Homo sapiens: one gene and its partners. The protein of the gene in region 7 purifies or fractionates together with the protein of the main gene of each other region. This does not show direct contact. Each region holds a gene or a part of one and is shown on either strand. Other genes may lie near its edges. The genes, in order: MSI2, RFK, TRAP1, ZFYVE19, CSRP1, KIFBP and UFM1.

What was found.
Region 1: the proteins of UFM1 (region 7) and MSI2 fractionate together in Homo sapiens (co-fractionation; one large-scale study listed by BioGRID). This does not show direct contact.
Region 2: the proteins of UFM1 (region 7) and RFK fractionate together in Homo sapiens (co-fractionation; one large-scale study listed by BioGRID). This does not show direct contact.
Region 3: the proteins of UFM1 (region 7) and TRAP1 fractionate together in Homo sapiens (co-fractionation; one large-scale study listed by BioGRID). This does not show direct contact.
Region 4: the proteins of UFM1 (region 7) and ZFYVE19 fractionate together in Homo sapiens (co-fractionation; one large-scale study listed by BioGRID). This does not show direct contact.
Region 5: the proteins of UFM1 (region 7) and CSRP1 fractionate together in Homo sapiens (co-fractionation; one large-scale study listed by BioGRID). This does not show direct contact.
Region 6: the proteins of UFM1 (region 7) and KIFBP fractionate together in Homo sapiens (co-fractionation; one large-scale study listed by BioGRID). This does not show direct contact.

What each region holds. Positions count from the first base shown.
Region 1 is NC_000017.11:57,682,356-57,685,189, reverse strand, and holds the end of MSI2 (RNA-binding protein Musashi homolog 2), read right to left. Parts: 3' UTR 501-2,834; downstream 1-500.
Region 2 is NC_000009.12:76,391,627-76,395,764, forward strand, and holds the start of RFK (riboflavin kinase), read right to left. Parts: upstream 2,801-4,138; 5' UTR 2,546-2,800; coding exon 2,464-2,545; exon of another isoform or gene 2,243-2,463; intron 944-2,242; coding exon 792-943; intron 1-791. UniProt on the Homo sapiens protein: Catalyzes the phosphorylation of riboflavin (vitamin B2) to form flavin-mononucleotide (FMN), hence rate-limiting enzyme in the synthesis of FAD. Essential for TNF-induced reactive oxygen species (ROS) production.
Region 3 is NC_000016.10:3,676,025-3,679,524, forward strand, and holds part of TRAP1 (heat shock protein 75 kDa, mitochondrial isoform 1 precursor), read right to left. Parts: exon of another isoform or gene 1,635-3,500; coding exon 1,474-1,634; exon of another isoform or gene 122-1,473; coding exon 12-121; exon of another isoform or gene 1-11.
Region 4 is NC_000015.10:40,812,837-40,815,584, reverse strand, and holds the end of ZFYVE19 (abscission/NoCut checkpoint regulator), read right to left. Parts: coding exon 2,683-2,748; intron 2,248-2,682; coding exon 2,168-2,247; intron 1,873-2,167; coding exon 1,774-1,872; intron 1,643-1,773; coding exon 1,515-1,642; intron 1,438-1,514; coding exon 1,359-1,437; 3' UTR 501-1,358; downstream 1-500. UniProt on the Homo sapiens protein: Key regulator of abscission step in cytokinesis: part of the cytokinesis checkpoint, a process required to delay abscission to prevent both premature resolution of intercellular chromosome bridges and accumulation of DNA damage.
Region 5 is NC_000001.11:201,500,624-201,504,123, forward strand, and holds part of CSRP1 (cysteine and glycine-rich protein 1), read right to left. Parts: intron 1-3,500. UniProt on the Homo sapiens protein: Could play a role in neuronal development.
Region 6 is NC_000010.11:69,015,143-69,017,482, forward strand, and holds the end of KIFBP (KIF-binding protein), read left to right. Parts: intron 1-398; coding exon 399-1,274; 3' UTR 1,275-1,840; downstream 1,841-2,340. UniProt on the Homo sapiens protein: Activator of KIF1B plus-end-directed microtubule motor activity. Required for organization of axonal microtubules, and axonal outgrowth and maintenance during peripheral and central nervous system development.
Region 7 is NC_000013.11:38,356,351-38,359,850, reverse strand, and holds part of UFM1 (ubiquitin-fold modifier 1), read right to left. Parts: intron 1,759-3,500; coding exon 1,719-1,758; intron 551-1,718; coding exon 518-550; intron 1-517. UniProt on the Homo sapiens protein: Ubiquitin-like modifier which can be covalently attached via an isopeptide bond to lysine residues of substrate proteins as a monomer or a lysine-linked polymer.

The DNA of each region.
Region 1 (2,834 bases), on a different chromosome or scaffold from region 7:
TCTTTAGTTTTGTGATTGTAATGATTTCCAGTAGGCAAAACTTAAAACTCCTTGAGGGCAGAGGTCTGATACCTATTCAGACCCCTACTCAGGGGTCGTGGAATGCGGTTTGGCGCCTTCTCCCAGCACTGTTGATAACTGAGGGCAGCACCCGGGAGGGCCCCTTAGCTCCTTCCACCATCTGGGTCCTCTGATCCGCAGGACCTTTGGGGTTTATTCCCTGTCCACTCATGGGTTCTGTGTACCTTCTGCTGTTAATCTACACCCCTCTCCCGTCTGCTCTTCCATCTTAGTGCTCTCTTGCCACTTCATAAAAATGGTGCCACAAGCTCCCTGGGGACAAGGCAGGGACTTCTTCGCTGCTGGAGGCCCACGGCCAGCATTCATGCTGAGGGGTGAGGGTGGCAGGTGCGATTTGATGATATCCTCTCCCGCCCAAGCAAAACAACAGCTCTCCCAGACCCCAGACCTCCTCTGCAAGTGAAAGAACACCAAACAACTCTGTTCAAAACAGTTTATTTTATTTTATTTTTTTTTTTGTCAGACAAACACATTGATTTCTGGACCACAGTAGAGGATGGAAACCTTTCACAAACTTATTTATTTGAAAATACAAATATAAAATTATACTTTCCACATCTGTGATGTGAGAGACTGCCATCCACATAGTAATTTTTTACAACAGGGCTTTAAGAAAGCCACACACAAAGACCTGAAAGATGCTTGAGATATATATATAGATAGTACATATATATGTATATATATAAAAAAAATACTCACTACCAAAGTTCTCATCAGTTTCATACTAAAGTATAAAAGTAAGGGTGAGGTCAGCCACAGTGCTAGGGAAAGTTTTATTTAGATACATTTATGTCCACATGAAACGCTTAGACTTGCATCCTATTACATATGGAATTCGGAGTTTACAATACACCATGAACGGCAGATTGGCTAGCCCACGCTACTTAAGAGGACACTCACAGATTCCACATGGGATGGTACATTATGTACAGAATACAGTAGTAGAGAACCTTCGAGGGAGGCTCTGGAACTTTTGTCTCTCAGCCTCCGGCCCCCTCCCCCATCATGCCCCTGCCTCCCGGAACTGAAATCCTGTCTGAGACAATACATTCTGATTATTTGATAGCCAGGTGTTTGGATTAAGGTTGCCCCCCTGCAGGTCCCCGACAAGAGGGATGGATTTTATTTATATGTTTTTGTGTTTTAGTTTACTTACTTTTTTTTGGTAGAAAAAAAAGAAAGAAAAAGAAAACAAACATATTACAGTATTAAAGTATTGCTTAACTTCCAGCGTCTCCTTGTGTAGTGTCTGTGCCCAGGACGGGGCTGAGCTGACGTCTGCTAGTTTTCTGCTTTGGGGTGAGGGTGGGGAAACCCGCCAGTGTCTTTCTTCAATGTGCTTGCCTGCAGTCAGTCCCTCTGCTCTCCCACTGTCTGCCTTCCTTGGAAGATAGCCTGGCTTGCGAAGCACATTCAAGAAAAAAAAAAAAAAATCTCCCCTCCCCCACCAGCCCCCCACTCTCCCTCTGTTCCTGCGTGCCACTTGCAACCAATAAAGAGAAGTATGAGTTAGTGTTTCTTTTGTAAACAATTTCATATGCAATATAATACAGAAAGCATGGCTGACCTTCAATAAAAAATGTAGTAAACGATATTGCTTTATTCTTGAATATGCTGCAGTGAGTGAATGGCAGAATGAAGCAGTGTGGAGGTGGTGGAGGAGGCTAAGTCCCTAGCCCTCGTTTGCACTAAAGATCAAAATAGGTTTTGTTTTTCTATTTGGAACCAAAAATAAATTTTTTCCCCAAAAACCCCCAAATGAAAAGGAACAACAAGCAAAACCCACCCCCAAGAAATCAAAAACAAAACAAAACCAAGAACAAAAACTGAACACCTTTCAGGTCATTAGAACCAACAATTACCCAATGATTTTTATACTAGTCTAGCAAGATGTGTGTAACATTCACTGGCTGTGATTGCTGTGCAGTGAAACAGTAAATTGACAGCAATAGAGCCATGCTACCTTAAAGTCCAAGCTACAAGTTCAAATTAAGATGAAGGTTATGAAGGATAAAAACGCAAAGGCCTGCTGGGGCTTTGTTTGAATCAAGCTAATGGGCGACTGGGATAGAGCGCGAGGCTGTTTGGTATAGAGCGCGAGGCTGTTTGTTCCCAGTGGATATAAGGAAGGCCACGAGCCAAGTCTGTGGAAGCTGCTAGAGAGCAGACCAAGGCTTGGTCATCTCCGTCAGCCCCATGCCCAGCTAGGACCGGGAATGGGTCCGGGAGCTAATGCCACTCACTCGCCTCTGCTTGGGAGGAGAGGAGTTCGGGGGTCTCAGGCAGATGGATCTGGAAGCCAGAAAGTCACCCGGTGGCTGTTTGATAATTCCGGGGAAAAGCCATCAGCCAAGAGGGTTTCTCCCCCAGGGAAGGCGAAAGGTGGTTCCCATGTTCGCCATTGAGCTTAACTGAAACAAAGACGAGGCTGAAACATCAGTGTTAAAAGAATTTACAAAAATCTTTCAAAATGGACTTCTAGATGGAATGGGGGGACTAACGTGAACCTTAAACCTAGGTAGCCACATTAAAACATATCGGATTTCCACAAGATTTGTGCTATGGGCTACTGGGTCTCTTCAAAAGGTATATAAACATCTAAAACATATTCACACAGATTATCAATTTCTTCTGAGCATTCTTAAAAAAATATTTTTTCTCTTAGTAAAATCATTTTAATATACCATGCCTCCCTCTTTTAAAAAATAAATTAAAAAAATCCAGTTTTGCATATCTAGCATTAGCATTTAAGG
Region 2 (4,138 bases), on a different chromosome or scaffold from region 7:
CTTTCACAGACAGCAATTATCAAAGTCAGTATTATAATTTTGGTTTGTAACTCCACTCTTTATTTTCTACATAATTTAAAAAATAAATGCATAAAAAAACCAATTATTAATCTTTGTTATTGGGTACCACAATGTATAAGGATGTAATCTGAGCCAGATGCAGGCAGTGGCATGTACCTATAGTCCCAGCTCTCTGGAGGCTGGAGGAGGATTACTTGAGCCCATGAGTTTGAAGCTACAGTGTGCTACAACCTGGCCTGTGAACAGCTACTGCACTTCAGTCTGGGCAACATAGTGAGACCCCATCTTTAAAAAAAAAAAAAAAGATGCAATTTCTGAGTTCTGTATGCTATTGAAATTAAGTTGGTATAAACTCAAATTAAACTTTTAGAATTTCAGGATGTTAAATATAAACCCCATGGTAACCACAAAGACAGTATCTATAGAAATACACAGAAAGCAATGAGAAAGGAATTAAAATGTCACTACAAAACAAAACAAAACAAAAAGCACACTACCACAAAAGGCAGTAATAGAGGAAATGAGGGACATAAAAGTTATAAGGCATATAAAAAACAAATAGCAAAACAGTAGATGTCCCTCCTTATCAGAAATTACTTTAAATGTAAATGAATTAAACTCTCCAATTAAAAGACAGAGATTGCCCAAAATTCCAGTATTTGAACTACGTTGTGATTACCACTGATAAGCTATTTCTGTAACGAATACTGTAATATATTATTCTAAGTCATCATACCATTTTCGGTTACAGAGCAAAATATAATGCTTACCATAGACTTCTTCGTATTCTTGTAATATGGGTTCCATCCTATGCTCACCACCATCTTATGGACATCTCCACTTCCAACACTGGCCCAACCATAGTAAATACCAGTGGATATATCAGCTGGAAGATTATCTACCACTTGCTCAGGAAAATTAGCTAAACAACAGAAGAAAATATTTTGAGTCTTACAAATTTCGTATTAAATGCCTGTAGCCGAGTGCAGTGGCTCATGTCTGTAATTCTAGGACTTTGAGAGGCCAAGGCAGGAGGCTCATGTTGAGCTCTGGGGTTTGAGACCGGCCCGGGTAACATAGTGAGATCTTACCTCTATTAAAAAATTAGCTGGGGATGGTGGCCTGCACCTATAGTCTAAGCTACCAGAGAGGCTGAGGCAGGAGGGTCAGTTGAGCCCAGCAGATGGAGGCTGCAGTAAGCTATGATCGCACTACCACTGCACTCCAGCCTGAGTGGCAGAGCCAGATTCTGTCTCAAAATAATAATAAGAAACAAACATTTGTAAAAATCACATGCAAGGCTAATGTAAATCATTACATTCACAAGACTCCTACAACTTTGCCTGTAAGTATCAATCCCATCCTTCCATTTTCCGGCTCAGATTTCCCTCTCCTATTCATGTGAATAGGTTATGAATAAAGTACCAGGTAAGTATATAAAGCTCTCCAAAAAAATCCATACTCTTTGAGTAGGATGCAAAAAACAAGTACCAGAGTAGATGGATTTTTTCAGATCTGTTCTTTCCTAACCAGGTACTGAATCACCTGAAAAGTTTCTTTCTTTTTTTTTTTTTTTTGAGACGGTGTCTCACTCTGTCGCCCAGGCTGGAGGGCAGTGGCACGATCTCGCCTCACTGCAGCCTCCGTCTCCTGGGTTCAAGCGATTCTCCTGCCTCAGGTTCCCGAGTAGCTGGGATGACAGGCACGCGCCACCATGCCCAGCTAATTTTTGTATTTTTAGCAGAGACGGGGTTTTACCATGTTGGCCAGGCTGATCTCGAACTCCTGAGCTCAGATGATCCGCCCGCCTCGGCCTCCCAAAGTGCTGGGATTACAGGCGTGAGCCACCACGCCCGGCCAAAGCTTCTTATTTTTCAAATACACAAGCTCAAGGCTGACTTAACAAGTCAAGACGCAGCTCTGGCATGTATTTCTAAGGATGAATTACAGTCAGGTCTCGATTATTGAAATTAATGTAGACAGACCAAGAAGGTTAGCTGACTCTCATTCAACTACCTATGTTATCATTTGGACATTACATAATTACAAATTAAAAACAAAACCACCTTAGACCCGGCTTGCGAGTTCAGCCGTTCTGGCCCACGTTACGTCTCTAATGGGCAAGACAAGCGCAATGCTTGACCAACTGTACCTTGGCTGGCCAAGGAGGCGTGAACGGGGAATCCTGCGATTCATCTCGGGCTTCCGGCCCTCACCACCCCTCAACCCCGTCCCCGCGGAGCTCGGAGCCAGAAGCAGGGACAAGCTCCCTCAACCGAGCCAACGGTCCTCCGCCACAGACAAGGGGATGCGGGAGGAGGAAGGGTGTGCTCTCTGCCCGCGGTCCGGAGGCCCCACGCCCCGGTCCCAAGTCCCCGGCTGCCGTCTCTCCCCGCTCCCCACGTGACCCGGCCCGGGGGACTCTGGCCGCCCTGCTCTCACCTGTGGGGATGCCCAGCTGCTTGGAGCCGCGGCCGAAGCCCCGCACCACTTGACCCCGGCAGAAGTAAGGCAGGTGCCTCATAATGCAGTCCGCTCGGGGAATGGGCTGCGGCCCGGTCTGCGCGTCCTGCGGAGCCGCCGTCGACGCGGCGCCCAGACCCCGGACCAGCCGGGGGACAGGAGCGTGAGCTCTGCCTGCCGCGGGGGCGCACCAGTGGCCGGACGACGCCGACCACAGGCCACTGCGAATCCCTGACGCCGCCGACCCAACAAATACCGCCGGGCGCCTGAGGAGCTGCGTCTCCGCTGGAGGGCAGCGGAGACAGCCGAAGTAAGTGCCGGGTGTGAGCGGGGTGGGGGGAGGGGGCGGCCCGAAGCGCAGAGCCGGCCTCCGCGCCGCCGGCGTGCGCTCCCTTCCTCAGCCGAACGCCTCGAGCCCGCTCGGCTTCCGTAGCCCCGCCCCATCATGGCCCCGCCCCGCCGCTGCCTCGCCCGGCTCCCGCCGCAAGCTCCCGCTGCAGGCTCCCGCCCCAGGCGCCTAATGTCTGGATCCCGGGCTTCGTTTCAGCCCCTGGCGATGGGAACTAATGTGGAAACCCCGTTTTCAGCCTGAGAGCCGCGAAAGCACAATTCTCGAACAATTCTGGTTTTTTTTTCTCCTTCCTCCTGTTCATAACAATCCGGAAGCCAAAGTGAGACGCTCTTTAGCTCCTTGGCAACCGCTGGGTTGAACGTCAGGCATCGCTCGTTCCGTTCGCTCTTTAAGTATTTATTAAAGCTCCAAAATTCAGCTCAAAGATCGCCTCTTCACAGAGGCTTTTCCTGGCCGCCCTACCAGAAGCGGTCGTCCTCCAGGACCACTGACCACGTTCTGGAGTTATTAATATATTCGAATGTAAGCTCCAAGGGAGAAGTCCCTGTCTGTGACGCTGTTAACCCCAGAGACTAGTGGAAGGTTACCGACATGGGCGGTGACTGTCCCCTCCAGGCTGTCTTCTTGACAATTTCACAAGCCCGATAACAGGCCGTCCCTCTACTGCAATGCAGATAGAGGCCTTCGTACCCTCGGAACTGTAAATACGCACGCTCCTAGGGAAGTAGCTCTGGGCTCACTCACAGGATATGCAGGGTGCAAGGTTATAAGAAGGTGCATCCTCTTAACGTCTCGAAGACAAAGAAGTTTTTTATTTATTTTTTTAAATTTTTAATCAATGGAATCCAGAGAAGTTTAATTTTTTTCTTTTTTGCTCTATACATTTGTATAAAATTCTGTGCAGACCGTGTAGTCTCTTTCTACCTTACATGTATGCATCTCTGATAAGATTTACCTGATATTAAATTTATGTTCTAGGCCAGGCTTGGTGGCTCACGCCTGTATTCCCAGTAGTTTGAGAGGCCGACGCGGGAGGATTGATTGAGCCCAGGAGGTCGAGGCTGCACTGAGCTATGATAACGCCACTGCACTCCAGACTGGGCGACACAGTGAGACACCCTCACCCCTTAAAAGAACTAGAGAAGAAGAAGGAAGGGAGGGAAGGGAAAGGAAAGGGGAAGGGAAAGTGAAAGGGAAGAAAAGGGAAGGGAAGGGAGAGAAGGACCCAAAGAAGCAATTATGGTCAGTTACTTATCTATACGGAATTAAACAAAGAATAATGAGAATAACGATAATAGTAAT
Region 3 (3,500 bases), on a different chromosome or scaffold from region 7:
CTCCCGCTCACCTCGCACCCGGGCCTCGCTGGAAAACTCCTTGCAGTCGGATTTCAGGTGGATGATGATTTTTGTCCCGGTTCTAACTCCCGAAGCTTCGGCGATTTCAAACACTCCAGAACTAAGGCAGGCAAAGAAAGGAAAAGCCAGGTGGATGTGACACTGGGACATACCCTGCATGGGACTCCAGCGGTTCCCGAGGGTTTCATAGGCAGAGCCCAAACAACACACAACACACCTCAAATGCCCCATTTCTGACCCCAGCGCACCACTCAGGCCATCACATGCCCATCAGGAACGATGAGCCTGTCGCAGGCGGCAGAGTTCTCCTGGTTCCCTCGGGCGGGGGGCGGGGGGGCGGGGGTCCTCCACCGACCCTGGGCTTCGAAGAAGCTTCTGGGCTTACCCCAAAAGCAGGCCTGGGGCACTGTGGGGGACTGGCCCAGCTCCAAATCGGGTGCCAGATGCCCAGGGGCAAAAACAAAGGCCAGGGGGACAGGCGCCCCCTAAGAAGAGCAGAAAACCATCTCCGAAGCACAGGAGGGGGGAATCCCCCGGCAGGGCCATGTTGATGCCTTGGCCTAAGTTTACTCTGAGCCCCGCTCCCATGGAATTAAACAGGAATGTTAGTTTTGGGAGAGTGGGGAGTCAAGCTGAGCACAGTGCACACACTGTGGAGCAGAAATGGCATCACGGAGGGAGGACGCCTCGGCTGGCTGGAAGCGGCTCACCTGCTAAAAAGCCCTCGGAGCCAGGCGTGGTGGCTCACGTCTATAATCCCAGCACTTTGGGAGGCCAAGACGGGCAGATCACCTGAGGTCGGGGTTCGAGACCAGTCTGACCAACATGGAGAAACCCTGTCTCTACTAAAAATACAAAATTAGCTGGGCGTGGTGGCATGCGCCTGTAGTCCCAGCTACTCAGGAGGCTGAGGCAGGCCAATTGCTTGAACCTGGGAGGCGGAGGTGGCAGTGAGCCAAGATTGTGCCATTGCACTCCAGCCTAGGCAACAAGAGTAAAACTCCGTCCCAAAGGAAAAAAAAAAAAAAAAAGCCCCCAGCAGGCTCCTCACCCTATAGAGGCAGAAGTGGGCTGGGGAGACAAAGCCAGGAAATGCCAGGGCTGGGAGGAAGCAGAATGAGCTCTTGCAGAAGGTCGGTCACAGGAGGCTGCATAGTGTCCACCAGGCGACAGGCCAGTCCTGCAGCTCAGCCACTGAGAAAGGAGCTCAGCGCGGGCCGGACCTGCCTTCCCGAGCGCAGTGGTGGTGACCAACCACATGGGACCAGACAGGTGCCATAGGCCACCTGGAGCCACAAAAGTCACTAACTCCCCAAAATGGGAGAGTCAGATTTCATATAAAAAGCCCAGAAAATGCCTGTGTACGTTTTCTGAGTCCATCCCTTTCCAAACTCCATGCTAAGGGCTCCAGCTCAGCTTTGAGCTGCCTGTCAGGCGACATTCGTCACTCACCCATCTGAAAGCCACTGGTAACCCAGGCTCCCCGGGGCTGCCGAGCGGGAATAGACCTCCACTCTGTCAGCCACCATGAAAGCTGAGTAGAAACCCACTCCAAACTGGCCGATGATCTTGCTGCTGGCCTCAGCCTGGTTCTGCAGAGCATCCAGGAAGGCCTGTGGGGCAGAGGCCAGTTAGTGAGGCAGCCTCCCCTCCAGAGAGCAGACACTCCCAACACCGTGGCTCTTCTGCGAGCACCGCTAAGACCCCTTCATCCTGAAAACAGCCACACCGAGTACTTTTCCACCCCATTCTACACGTGAAGAGCTAAGTCACAGAGAGGTGACACATTAGCCCTAGGACAACCAGCTGGCAGCAGTGGGACAAGTGTGTTTTCCATTTGATTCCCAAAGCTCACAGTCCTGCCTGTCCCAGACAGGTGGAGGCCTGTGGGTCACACCTGGGGGTGGGGAAAGAGCAGCTTGAATAAGCTCTTTCCCTTGAATAAGCTCCTTCCATAGGAAGGCCAGGAGTGAGGAGAGGCTCCAAACTGGCTTCCATATTCAAGTCTCCTGGACTCTACACTTTGTGGGAAAAAGAGTAGAAATCACGCGCATGCGTCTGTAAGCACCGCACAGCACTTCATTTTTCTACTATAATACTGCCAAAGGTCCTAAGGCCAAAGTCAAGTAAAATACACACGCCCACTGCCCTGGCCCACGTTGTCCGATGGAACTTTCTCCAACAACAGGAACGTTCTGCCAGGTGCAATGCGACAGCCTGCCGAGCACCTGCAATGTGGCCTGTGCAGCTGAGGAGCACAATGTCCCCTTTTATTTAATTTGAATGCATTTACATTTAAACTGCCACATGCAGCTGGTGGCCGCTACACAGGACAGCAGACCAACCTCGAGAGAAATACAACAAAAGACGTAACGTGGGGGTCAAGTCACAGTTAGGGTGGGTTTTTTGTTTGTTGTTGTTGTTGTTGTTGTTTTTGAGATGGAGTGTCGCTCTGTCGCGCAGGCTGGAGCGCGGTGGCGTGATCTCAGCTCACTGCAACCTCTGCCTCCCGGGTTCAAGTGATTCTCCCGCCTCAGCCTCCCGAGTAGCTGGGATGACAGGTACCACCACCACGCCCAGCTAATTTTTGTATTTTTAGTAGAGACGGGGTTTCACCGTGTTAGCCAGGATGGTCTCCATCTCCTGACCTCGTGATCCACCTGCCTCGGCCTCCCAAAGTACTGGGGTTACAGGCGTGAGCCACCGCACCCGACCTAGTGTTTTCATCTTACAGATGAGGAGACTGAAGTAAGTGCTTTGCCCAGAGCTGGAAAAGGGCGACCGCTGGAGGTTCCCAGGCTGTTGGTCTGAGTCCAAATGTGTTGCTCTGCCTCACAGCACTTTTCTGCAAAGTCGATTCCCTGAGCCTTGTGGGCTTGACGCAGAGAGGGTCAGAGGGATCAGTCCCCTCTCACACAGCGCCGTGATGAGAACGGGCTTGGGATGCGGCGTCTGTGGGTTTGATGGTTCTGGTCAGAACTGCTCTGTGGGTCTGGGCATAGTGACGTGCACCTGTAGTCACGCCTCAGGAGGCTGAGGCTGGAGGATAGCCCGGCCAACATGGTGAAACCCCGTCTCTACTAAAGATACAAAAAATTGGCCAGGCGTGGTGGCTCGTGCCTGTAATCCCAGCTACTTGGGAGGCTGAGGCAGGAGAGTTGCTTGAACCGGGAGGCAGAGGTTGCAGTGAGCCAATACAGTTGGTCCTCCTATCTACGGGTTCCACATTTGCAGATTCAACCAGCCAAGGATCGAAAATACTCAGAAAAAAAATAAAAAACAACACAATGATAAAAAGTAGTATAAAAAACATAACTATGTTATATCTATATCTAGCATTTACATTCTATCAGGTATTATAACTAACCTAGAGACCATCTAAAGCATACAAGAAGATGTGTCTACAATATACGGCACCAATTTAATCCGGGACTGGAGCATCTGCAGACTTTGCTATCCAAGGGGGGTCCTGAAACCAA
Region 4 (2,748 bases), on a different chromosome or scaffold from region 7:
GGAGGGACATTTGCATACTCCTACTGTCTGTGTGGTCACAGCTAGTTTCTGTCAGCTGGGCTCTCTGGGAGAAAGCTGGCTGTTGTCCAATGCCTTCCTTGGCAGCCAAGTGGATAAAACCTTTAGGAGCCCCAGCTCAATGGAGTGTGGAACATATCTGTGCTGAGGGACAGGGGAGGAGAGAATGAAGTGATACACAGGAAGGCCACAACCTAAGTCACTTGGCTGTGCCCACACACCTCATCCATCCATCCATCCAAAGGACTCAAGAATTCAAAGACGAAAGTCACAGCTCCACTTCAGAGAGATCACAATCTAGCAAGGCCTCGGGGCCAAGCAGACATTATCTGCCTAAGGTACACAGCCTACTGGCATAACCAACAAGAGGGACGCCAATGGCAAAGACTAGTTTCAAATCCCAGAGAGGAAGTAACAGGAAAAACCTAGCTGGATCTGAGAGCCTCAGAAAAGGCTCTTCCAACCAAAAGTGATGCAGGAGGTAGACCTCAGCCCGAGGGCTCTTTATAGTTGGTTCCAGCCAGGGGCAGGAAGAGAAACAGCAGAGGCAATGCAGAGGCATGTAAAGGGTACATGCCGAGAGGTCAGGGGTCCGGTTAGGGCGCATTACTGGAAGAGAGATACTGAGACTGAATGGCAGGCAGGTTGGGACAGGAGCCCTAGGAGCTGGGGTCCTTTGCCAGTAAGGCAGGAAGCAGGGTGTGTGTGCATTGTTCCTGCGTGCATTGTGTGAGTAGTAGAGAGGCTGAGAAATCCAAGATGGTGGGGACTGGTGGCTAAGTGGGGCTGCCCAGAGCTGGAGCACAGTTGAGTTGAATGAATACATGTTTACTTCGTATGAGGCCACCAGGATGGGTAGGGCTGTTCCTGCCTGGAGAAGTTCATAGGATGGCTCAACCTTTTCCCCCATTCCCCACAACTGTGCTTACAGCCTGCTCTGTTCCTGCCACCTCTCACAGGGCCCAGGCTCATAGGGTTGTAGAAATGAGATGCTGGGCCCAATGAATCAACATACTTTATTAGACCCACTAAGTGCCAGGGGAGGGGCCTGTGCCCTAGAGCCAGGTTACAGGGCTCACCCGTAGATTCAGTCTGGTCTCTCCCCATCATGCCTCTCACTTCCAGTCTGGGCTTCTAATAGGAGGGCCCCGACTTCTTCCCTCCCAGTCATTCTCTCGAATGGAGAATCTTTCCTCATTCCAGGGACACCAAGGCTCAGGAAGGGGCCTATCCATCATCAGTAGAGCCAGACAAGCTCTCCCATCGGACGTCCTGTGGCTGGGCCCAGAAATGGGTGCCGCTGCCTGTGGGACTGCCCTTCCGGGAGGACCAGGGTGTCTTCAGTGCTCTTGGCCTGCACGTGGAGGAGAGTAGGCAGATGTCTGGTGCTCTTTAAGCTCAAAGGCATCATGGCCCTCTCTGTGGAACAAAGGGATACAAGTCAGGGATCCAGGCAGCCCTTGAGCTCTCGCACAGAACATTCCACCTGCACCCACCGGAAGCAGCGGGCACAGAAGAGGTCCCCATCGCAGCCAGCGCAGCGTAGGGTGGCATCCTCATTGCAGATGCAGCACCAGGGGAGCTCCTCTTCCTCAGCCTCAGGCCTGGGGTCCACATCCTGGGCCTTCAGGGATCAGAGAGGAATGGAGGAAGTAAGGTACCCAGTGGGGTATGTGAGCTGCTGCAGGAGCAGTCAGCCAGGCAGGAAGCAAGGCTGGGGGGAGCCTGGGGGTCTGCATCTGGGGCTTTTCTCACCTCAGGCTCTGCCCCGCGGGGTTGCGTCCAGGGTCGAGAAGCCTGCTCTGCAGGGATGTTAAAGCCACTTGCCTCATCCAGGGAAGCTTCTTCAGTGAGCTGCGGACAGGGTGAAGATGTACTACTCCCCTGCTTCAGGCCCAGGCCCTCCATCTCCCAGTATTTCTGTGCACTGTGGACTTAGCTTCTCAAACTCATCTTTTTCTTTACTTGTGGCCTGTGGCTGCTGATTCCCTATCTCCAGGGACCAGTGGGCAGGTCTGGGTCTGGGTCACAGGAGGGGGCCCAAAGAGAACAGGAGCTTCACAGTTACTGTCCACCCAGCCCCAGAGTAGAGGTGGGGCAATGAGGCGGAGACGGGACAAGGGGTGGCAGGTGGGTAATCCAGGCCCACCTGCTGCAGGACTCTTTGGATGGCTGTCTCCTCATCCTCGTCGTCATCACTGTCTGGGAGGCGATAGTCCTGGAGGGTCACTTGAAGAGGGAGACATGGGAACAGGGGATGGGGGAGTGAGAGTGAGAGATTTCACATGAGTGGCTGCCCTCCTGCCTCCCAGAACTGGTTCGGTTCCCAGGGGCACTTATTCCAGAGCTGAGAAGCCTCTTCAGCCACCCTGATGACCTGTCCCTGCCTGCCCCAGCCCTGCAGGGCTGGGCCATCACTGAAGCAGGCCTGAGGGCTAGGTTGGGGGCTGGAGCGAAAGCCTCAGCCCCTGAATGGACTGAAGGTCCCCTGCCCTCATGGCTGCCCCTGACTCCTCACCCACTGCTTTGCTCTACCACCTTCCTTGTGGCTCTGGGCTGGGCTCAGTAGATCTCTGGGCGCAAATACCCCCAGCACCTGACTCAGCCCTGCCAGGGAGGCCTTGACCAAGGGATACCAGTGAGCAGCTGCTCCCCAGCCTTCACCTCTCTCGGGGTCCTGTCCCCGCAGCATGGCTAGTCGCTTGGCCAGGGCCAGAATCCGTTCCTGCC
Region 5 (3,500 bases), on a different chromosome or scaffold from region 7:
TCAGGCAGTGCCTGTGGATGAGGTCCTGTCCCCCTCTGCCCACAAGAGGACCCCTCCAGGTGACCCTGCCTGTGGGGAAGAGGCTCAGCTGGAGGGAACCCTGGCAACAGGCAGGGCTCAGTCTTCACTCCACCTCCTCCCTTTCTGCCCTTCTCTCCAACAGCCAAATTCTGCCTGTAGGGAGGCCGAATTGCCTTAAAAGGAAACCTGTTTCTCAGAGTTCATGGAGTGCCTTAGAGGGACACTTGGCTCCTTCTTAATTGCCTTCCCAGCTCTCCGGCACAGAGGCCCTGCAGAAGGCTGGGACAAGAGAAGTTCCCAAGGTCAGAGTTCAGGCTGTACAGGTCAATGGTTAGGAAAACAAGAGCTGGGATTCGATCAATATGGATTTACCCCTTCCTAGCTGAATGATCTTGGGCAAGTTACTTTCCTTTCTGAGTGTCAATTTGCTTGTCTCTAAAATGGACCGTATATGGACTCCCTAAAATTCAGCTGTAAGGATTAAATGAGGAGGTATGGAAGTGATGGCCAGCACACTGTAAGTGCCCGCCCCTCTGACTACCACTCACACGACTGGACCAGTCATACGTCGACTCCACACTGCTAGATGTGGGCCAGCCATCCACATGTAGCTAGTCCACATATGGAAGGAGCGAGGCTTAAGAAGTACCATGCCAAATAGGGCCAGGAACTCCTGATTCATCTGCTAGCCCAGCGAATGAGTCTGGGACAAGTTACTTGCCCTTCTTTGGGGTTTAGCTCCCCCCAGCTGTCTGTGATGTCCCATTTCACTCTGTTGACCATCTCAACAGAGAACAGAGCTTGAATTTTCTACTGAATGGCTGGAAACACCTGGTCAGCTGTTTTCCTGAAACGGCTGGCGGCTAGAAGCCTGCTGTGTCTGCTGCTGCATCTTCCTAGCCTGGCTGTCCCATTAGGACTGTACCCAGATCCCCAGTTAGGACTGTACCCAGATCCTCAGCCTTGAGACAAGAAAGCCAAGGTGGCAGCTCTTACAGCAGCAGCAAAAGGAGAAGAAAAAGGTCACAGACTCTCAGTCACCCCAAATCTCATGAAAGTCAGGCTCGGCTGGGTGTGGTGGCTCACGCCTGTAATCCTTGCACTTTGGGAGGCTGAGGCAGGCGGATCACTTGAGGTCAGGAGTTCGAGACCGGCCTGGCCAATGTAGTGAAACCCCATCTTTAATAAAAATACAAAAATTAGCCGGGTATGGTGGCGGGCACCTGTAATCCCAGCTACTCCGGAGGCTGAGGCATGAGAATTGCTTGAAACAGGAGATGGAGGTTGCAGTGAGCAGCGATCTTGCCACTGCACTCCAGCCTGGGCAATAAAGCAATACTCAGTCTCAAAATAAATAAATAAATAAATAAATAAATAAATAAATAAAGTCTGGCTCAGGTGACAGGTTGAAGGAACCATCGCAGAGATGTAAAATCCCTAACTGCCAGCCACCAGTGTCTGAAGGCAAGCCCCTTCTTATCAAACCCTTCAAAACCATCCCATATCTTTATTTCTACAGTGGAAAAATCCCATCTCTCCCATTCCAAAATCATTTATTCCCTAGGGCCAAAGAGTGACTGACGGCACAGGGTTAAAGTCCCCATCCACTTGCTCCAGTAGAAACCTGTCAGATGTTTATCTAGCTCCCTCGCATTAGCTGAGCTGCTTGGTATCTGCCAGGTGGACAGGAGGGCTGGCATCCCTTCCAATCTGCAGCTCGGCTTTTGCCTCCACGCCCCAGTGTCCAGAGAGCAGCTGAGGGCAGAGAGAGGAGGGGGCTGGGCTGGTCAGGGCTCAGAGCCAAGTCTTAGAAGTGACACCTGAGAGCTCAGGAAATCAGCCTCTCCTGAAGCTCAGGGTCACGGGTAGGGGGAGAATGGCTGCCATGGAGATGGGGCAGGCTTGGCCTCAGCTTTCCATGTCCCACCTCATGTTTCCTTCAGAACCGTGCACATGACCCGCCTCTCTGAAAAGGTAACCAGCATCACTGAGCTACCATCAATCCAGGCCCCATGGGCCTCCAGAACTTGACTGTCATTCTAGGTCAGGAATCCTTCTCTCTATTGAATGAGCTTTCTCTTTTCAAATCCATGTCCAGTGGCCCTTGTGAGACTGTGAGCTGACAAGGGCGGTATATGTCTCTCCCTTTCCCCACTTGCCCCCAGTGCCTTCTAGAGCAGAGCTCCCTACTCTTGGAGTTCAGAAGTTTGCAGGGCGCAGTGGCTCATTCCTATAATCCTAGCACTTGGGGAGGCTGAGGTGGGTGGATCATTTAAGGTCAGGAGTTTGAGACCAGCCTGGCCAACAGCGTGAAACCCCATCTCTACTAAATATACAAAAAAAAAAAAAAAATTAGCTGAGTGTGATGGTGCACACCTGTAATCCCAGCTACTTGGGAGGCTGAGGCAGGAGAATTGCTTGAACCCGGAGGCAGAGGTTGCAGTGAGCCAAGATCGTGCCACTGCACTCCAGCCTGGGGGACAAAAGCGAAACTCTGTCTCAAAAAAAAGAAGTCTGAAGGTCAACACAGGTAGAAATGGAGGTCGATGACTTCTTTGTAGTATTTCAAAACTTCTACAGGAAATCCTGTATTATAATAAAGCCTCATAGACAAATTAACAGATGGGGTTTCCTTGCTTTTATCCAGATCTGTAATGATGTTGGTTATTCCATGCTGAACAAAATGGTCTGAATGATTTTTCTTTGATTAATTTTTTACAAGTTAAAACACATTAGCACTTAGGCCTTAAAAACACAGGTCGTTTGCAGCTGACATCCCAGGAAGCACCAACACACGCCACCCCTGCATAAAGAAAGCCAGGCACACAGTCGGGGGTAGGGGGTGCTGGCTGCCTAGCTGGGGCTGAGCTCCAGCTGCTAACCTTCCATTTCTTCCCCTGTTGTCACCGCTGAAGACTCAGACGCTGCCTTCTGGCCCTGGGGAAGCACTGGAAATACCAGAGTCTGGAAATGCTAGCTGCCCCCGTATTTACACACTTTACCATACATGGGAATTACTCAGTGCTGGCGTCAGACACATTCCTGGGTAGCTGCGTAGTACAGGCACGTCATTACCATATAAATTCTTGACAACTAGAAACAGCAGTCGGAACCCAGGACCCCTCCACCTCACCTTCTCTGCCCTCCCCTCAAGTTTTGCTAGCTCTCTCTTTCTCAAGCACGCTCTTTTCCAGGCTTGTTTTCTTTCTGCAAACCTGGCTCTGAAACTCAAACATGCAGAGCTGGTGAAAGCATATCCATTAGTGGCTGGGAACTAACTCTCAGGGGTCCCCTCTGCTCCTACCTGGCCATGCAACAGACTGAAAACCCGGAGGTCAGGAGTTCTAACCCTGATCCATCCAAGTGAAAGATATCTTCCTTAAATAGTTTATAAGCCACTGTAAAGCACCTTGTAAAGCTGATGTGTTTCACAAATGGCAGATATTTCCTTAGTGAGTTGATCTGGAAAAAGGAAATGT
Region 6 (2,340 bases), on a different chromosome or scaffold from region 7:
TCAACTCCTGACCTCGTGATCTGTCCGCCTTGGCCTCCCAAAGTGCTGGGAGTAATGTATCACATATATATAATGTTTCACAATTCTCAAAGTACTTTTACATGTAGCATTTATCTTATTGGAAGGAGTAACTGTAAATAAATTTCAGTTCCTCAGAATAAATGATATGTAAGCAGCTTGTCTATTTAAATACTTTTTTTTCCACATTTCTTGAGTTTTTAATATAATCGGAAGAAAGAAAGAAGTTTTCAAAGGTGTTTAAGATTATGATACCCTTCTAAACCAGGCTGGAAAGTAAGAGACTTCTCTTCTAAAAAACTCTGAAGTTTGCTTTAATATTATTTAACAGCAGGAGGTGAGTGTCCTACTTAACCATAATTTATTTTTTTTTCCTTCAGGACAACATAGGAGAGCTTGATCTTGATAAACAGTCTGAACTTAGAGCTTTAAGGAAAAAAGAACTAGATGAGGAGGAAAGCATTCGGAAAAAAGCTGTGCAGTTTGGAACCGGTGAACTGTGTGATGCCATCTCTGCAGTAGAAGAGAAAGTGAGCTACTTGAGACCTTTAGATTTTGAAGAAGCCAGAGAACTTTTCTTATTGGGTCAGCACTATGTCTTTGAGGCAAAAGAGTTCTTTCAGATTGATGGTTATGTCACTGACCATATTGAAGTTGTCCAAGACCACAGTGCTCTGTTTAAGGTGCTTGCATTCTTTGAAACTGACATGGAGAGACGGTGCAAGATGCATAAACGCAGAATAGCCATGCTAGAGCCCCTAACTGTAGACCTGAATCCACAGTATTATCTGTTGGTCAACAGACAGATCCAGTTTGAAATTGCACATGCTTACTATGATATGATGGATTTGAAGGTTGCCATTGCTGACAGGCTAAGGGATCCTGATTCACACATTGTAAAAAAAATAAATAATCTTAATAAGTCAGCACTGAAGTACTACCAGCTCTTCTTAGACTCCCTGAGAGACCCAAATAAAGTATTCCCTGAGCATATAGGGGAAGATGTTCTTCGCCCTGCCATGTTAGCTAAGTTTCGAGTTGCCCGTCTCTATGGCAAAATCATTACTGCAGATCCCAAGAAAGAGCTGGAAAATTTGGCAACATCATTGGAACATTACAAATTTATTGTTGATTACTGTGAAAAGCATCCTGAGGCCGCCCAGGAAATAGAAGTTGAGCTAGAACTTAGTAAAGAGATGGTTAGTCTTCTCCCAACAAAAATGGAGAGATTCAGAACCAAGATGGCCCTGACTTAATCCTTGTTTTTAAAGAAAGGAAATGTGCAATATTGAAGTGATCTTTTTCCCTAGTCAGACAGGCCCAATTCCATTGTGATGTTTACCTTTATAGCCAGGTGAGTGCAGTTTGAACTTGAGATACAGTCAACTGAGTGTTTGCTAGGATCCTAAGGAACATAAAGTTAATTAAAAACTTACACCTAATTATGTAAATTGCCTTGTTAAAGACATGTGATTTGTATTTTAGATGCTTGTTTCCTATTAAAATACAGACATTTCTACCCTCAGTTTCTAAATGTAGACTATTTGTTGGCTAGTACTTGATAGATTCCTTGTAAGAAAAAATGCTGGGTAATGTACCTGGTAACAAGCCTGTTAATATATTAAGATTGAAAAAGTAACTTCTATAGTTACTCCTTCTAAAATATTTGACTTCCTAAATTCCCCCCACCCAAAATCTTTCCCTTTTGAAAATACTAAAAACTAAGTTATGTTATTATAAAGTGTAAAATGGTTTGTCTTAATTATAGGAGAAAAAGGCCTTGTTAGAAATAAAATAAACTGACTTATTTCACTAATGAAAACTTCTGTTTCCTTTTTGTTTTCTTGTGAGCACTGATACCTCAATACATTGATACCTCAATACCTTTGAGGTATTTTTTGATACCTCAAAGATACTAGCTTATTTGAAGCTAGAGAAGAATATTTCTTCAATAACATTGCACAGTTAGAAAACATTAAAATATCATTCATGGGCCAGGCACCGTGTCTCATGCCTGTAATCCCGGCACTTTGGGAGGCTGAGGCAGGCGGATCACAAGGTCAGGAGATCGAGACCATCCTGGCTAACACGGTGAAACCCCGTCTCTACTAAAAATACAAAAAATTAGCCGGGCGTGGCCGCGTGCGCCTGTAGTCCCAGCTACTTGGGAGGCTGAGGCAGGAGAATGGCGTGAACCCAGGAGGCAGAGCTTGCAGTGAGCCGAGATTGTGGCACTGCACTCCAGCCTGGGTGACAGAGCGAGACTCTGTCTCAAAAAAAAAATATCATTCATGGCTGAGTGTGGTGGCTTATGCCTGTAAT
Region 7 (3,500 bases):
TATGAGACTACTTTTACCCTGTCTCCTGGTCAGGACACCAATATATCACCTGTATAAATTTAACAGTTTGAAGATCTGAATGTAGACTCAGCCCCTTGAAATGTAAATGACTATATTTAAAAAAAATAATAGCACTTAATGAATGCTTTCTATAAATAATCCAAGCTATGAAGCACTTTACAGTCACTATCTCACAACTACCTTAAGAGGTAGGTCAAAAAATACTCCAATTAGAAAGCAATCTTATCTACAGACTTTTTGTTATATATAATAAATACTCTTAATGCTTAAGCCACTATTAGGTTTTCTGTTACTTGTAGCCAAAAACATCTACAATCAATATACACAATGAAACAACTTATTACTCAGACACACAGGTAAAGACTGGTATATAATCCCTAAAAAACAGCTCCATTATGTTAAAATACTGTCAAGTGTAATTAGAATAGCTTAACTATTCAGTGTCAATTGACATATATAACCCCACCCACTCCTCTATGAGTTTTCAAATACTCACCAGCAGTCTGTGCAGGATTTATTCCTATTCCATCTAGAAAATAAGTTGTAAAATCACATACATTATTTCTAAAGCTAAAATGGTTAAATAGTAGCAAGGAAAGAGATTTGCCAAAATAGTGCTGTTGTGTATATAGACATAAGCCAAACACTTTAAATCCAAGAACACGAGTGACAATCTTTCAGGTAAATTATCTGTTGAAATCTACTATTATTCTGCATTCATACACATTGCTGGGTTAGACAAAAACGTCTGTCAATGCAATGATCCTGGTAAGTTCTATGGAATATAGGTTATTAATTCTATTTTGCCATATAGAATTAAAAATAATGTTTGTCCTTTCTTCCAAAAAACTAAAAAGCCCCTTAGGTATGCCATGAATCATCTTCGTATTGTTCTAGGTCATAATATCTTAAGGCTGGGAGAGCTCACAAAGTCATTTAGTTCAACACGTTACTAAGTTATGACCTAAAACTTTCCAGGTAGTAAGCCAGCTTTTTTCCAACAGAGAAACACTTCAATGTGACAGAATGCAGAATATTTTAGAGTGAGAAATTCTACCTTATCTAAGTTACATCACGCACATTAAGCCCATCTCCTGTCCAAACTGCACTTGGGCAACGCATCAGCACTCATCAATACTGCATTGTATACTTGAAACACAGTTAAGCCCTCCCTGCAATCTTTACTCCTCATCTTATTATTTCACTATTTTCTCACAAGACTAATTCCATCATCATTGATTATCAGTGTTCCAAGATATTAAGATTTTTAATTATATACCTAAAACGGAATAAAATTCTCATTATTGCAAGCCTACAAGAAACAATTTTCTATCAGGAAAGGTATAGCAAAGATACATTCCTGCTTAACTTTCTATATTCTAAAGCATTTACCAAACAACTTTACTTAATAAAAAAAAAAACTTGCTAAATAAAGTTATTTTCAGTTATAATCTGGCATGAACTGGTAAGGACAAAAGATATTATAAAGTGCTATACTATATCAAAAGCTATATACAAAGAAATGAAAGGAGCTAATTATTAACAATAACCCTGACTTAGTGTTTACCAGTAAGTATATCATTTATGTTGATATACATATACTTGGGGCTTTTTGTATTTAATTTTAATTAATTTGGTTCCTTTTACACCATTTCTATAAATTTGAGGTAATACATAATTTTATAGTGAATTCTTACCATTGGTAATAATTGCACTTGTTGCAGCAGGAACTTTAAACTAAATAGAAGGAAAAAAAAATATATATATATATACACACACACACACACACACAAAACTATAAGATAATTAGCAAGAATGGGGTACAAATACCAATTCTATAATTCTAAAGTAGGATTAATCTTTTAGAATAAGTGAAACTATCAAGGAAAGTACAGCTGACCCTTGAATGACATATGCAGATTTTCTTCTGCCTCCGCTACTCCTGAGACAGCAAGACCAACCCTTCCTCTTCCTTCTCCTCAGTATATTCAACACAAGACAAGGATTAAGACCTTTCCCATGGTCCACTTCCACTTAATGAATAGTAAATATACTTTCTGTTATGATTTTCTTAGTATTTTTTCTTTAACGTTATTGTAAGAATACAGTATATAATACACATAACAAAATACATATTAATCGCCTGTCTGTGTTATCAGTAAGGCTTCCAGTCAACAGTAGGCTATTAGTAAAGTTTTTGAGAAATAAAAAAGTTTTATGCAGATTTTCAACTGCACAGGGGGTTGGAACCCCTAACTCCCACGTTATTCAAGGGTCAACTGGACTATATCATATGCTTTATCTGTAAAAAAAAAACCCTGTATTATAAACAGTGCTTTTGATTGTATTTAGGACACCATTAATTATAAAAGTGTACCTTATATTATACATTACAAAAATGAAAAACCACTGTCAATTTATGCCCAGATCAATGTTTACTCTTTAGGACTTATCCATCAATTTTGTCATTTATAATTCTCTTGAACAGCAAAAAGTACATGCAAAATAAACTGATGAGATTATTCCTAAAATTTCTCCATAGAAATTGCAAGATCTGAACAGATGCTCTCTGTGTTTAATGGGAGGTGCCTACCGAAGATTTTCAGGTAACAACCAAGGCTTGTATTCCTTACATTCCTCTGTAATGATTTGCTGATTTAAAGCTCAAGGATTGCAATAGTCCAATTATGTCATTAGGAAATAATAATTAAGTGTAGATGATGTTACCTAGACAATTAAGTGAAAGCCATTTGGCCAACAGTGATAGCAAGCCTCCCCTGATCTATTTCAGAGATGTTTAAAAAGATGTGTTTTTTAAATCAATGAAATGTGGTATGGAATTTATTGGTAGCTAAAAGGTAGATTCCATCTCTTAAAGAGACCAGCAGTTGCCAAAGTGTGTTTATGTCTTCACAGTTTATGCATTTATCCAACAAATTTAAGCATGTTTGTGCTATGGACTAACTTTATAGATATTATAGTTGAGTTTTGTGATCAAGTTTGGAAAACACATTTAACTAGTGGTCTTCTCAAAAGCCTTTAATATACTCCTAACAGAAATGAAGTGTTTCTCGTATTTTTTGACCAGTAATCCCTGTTCTTCATGAAGTTTTTTTTTTTTTTTTTTTGGTGGTACTAATTTGTGTGTGGTTCTAGTTGTCTGGGAAACACTACTCTAGGCATCTATAATCATTACATATACATAGTTGAGAAAAACTAAAAGCTTATTTTAAATTAGAAATTGAAGAATCAACTTTTAAAATAAGGCCTTAAACATACCTGAGAACAATTATTTGTTATAGTATTATGTACAAATTAATAATAAACACATTTTAATCTCAATGTGGTACACTCTTGTGTCCTTTTAAAGATTTTAAAATTTTTAAAGAATTTCAAAGTGTACTTAAGTAAACTTAAAAATGCATCACAAATATTTTGCACAGGCTGTAATCTCAATAAGAATTTGATCAAACACTCAA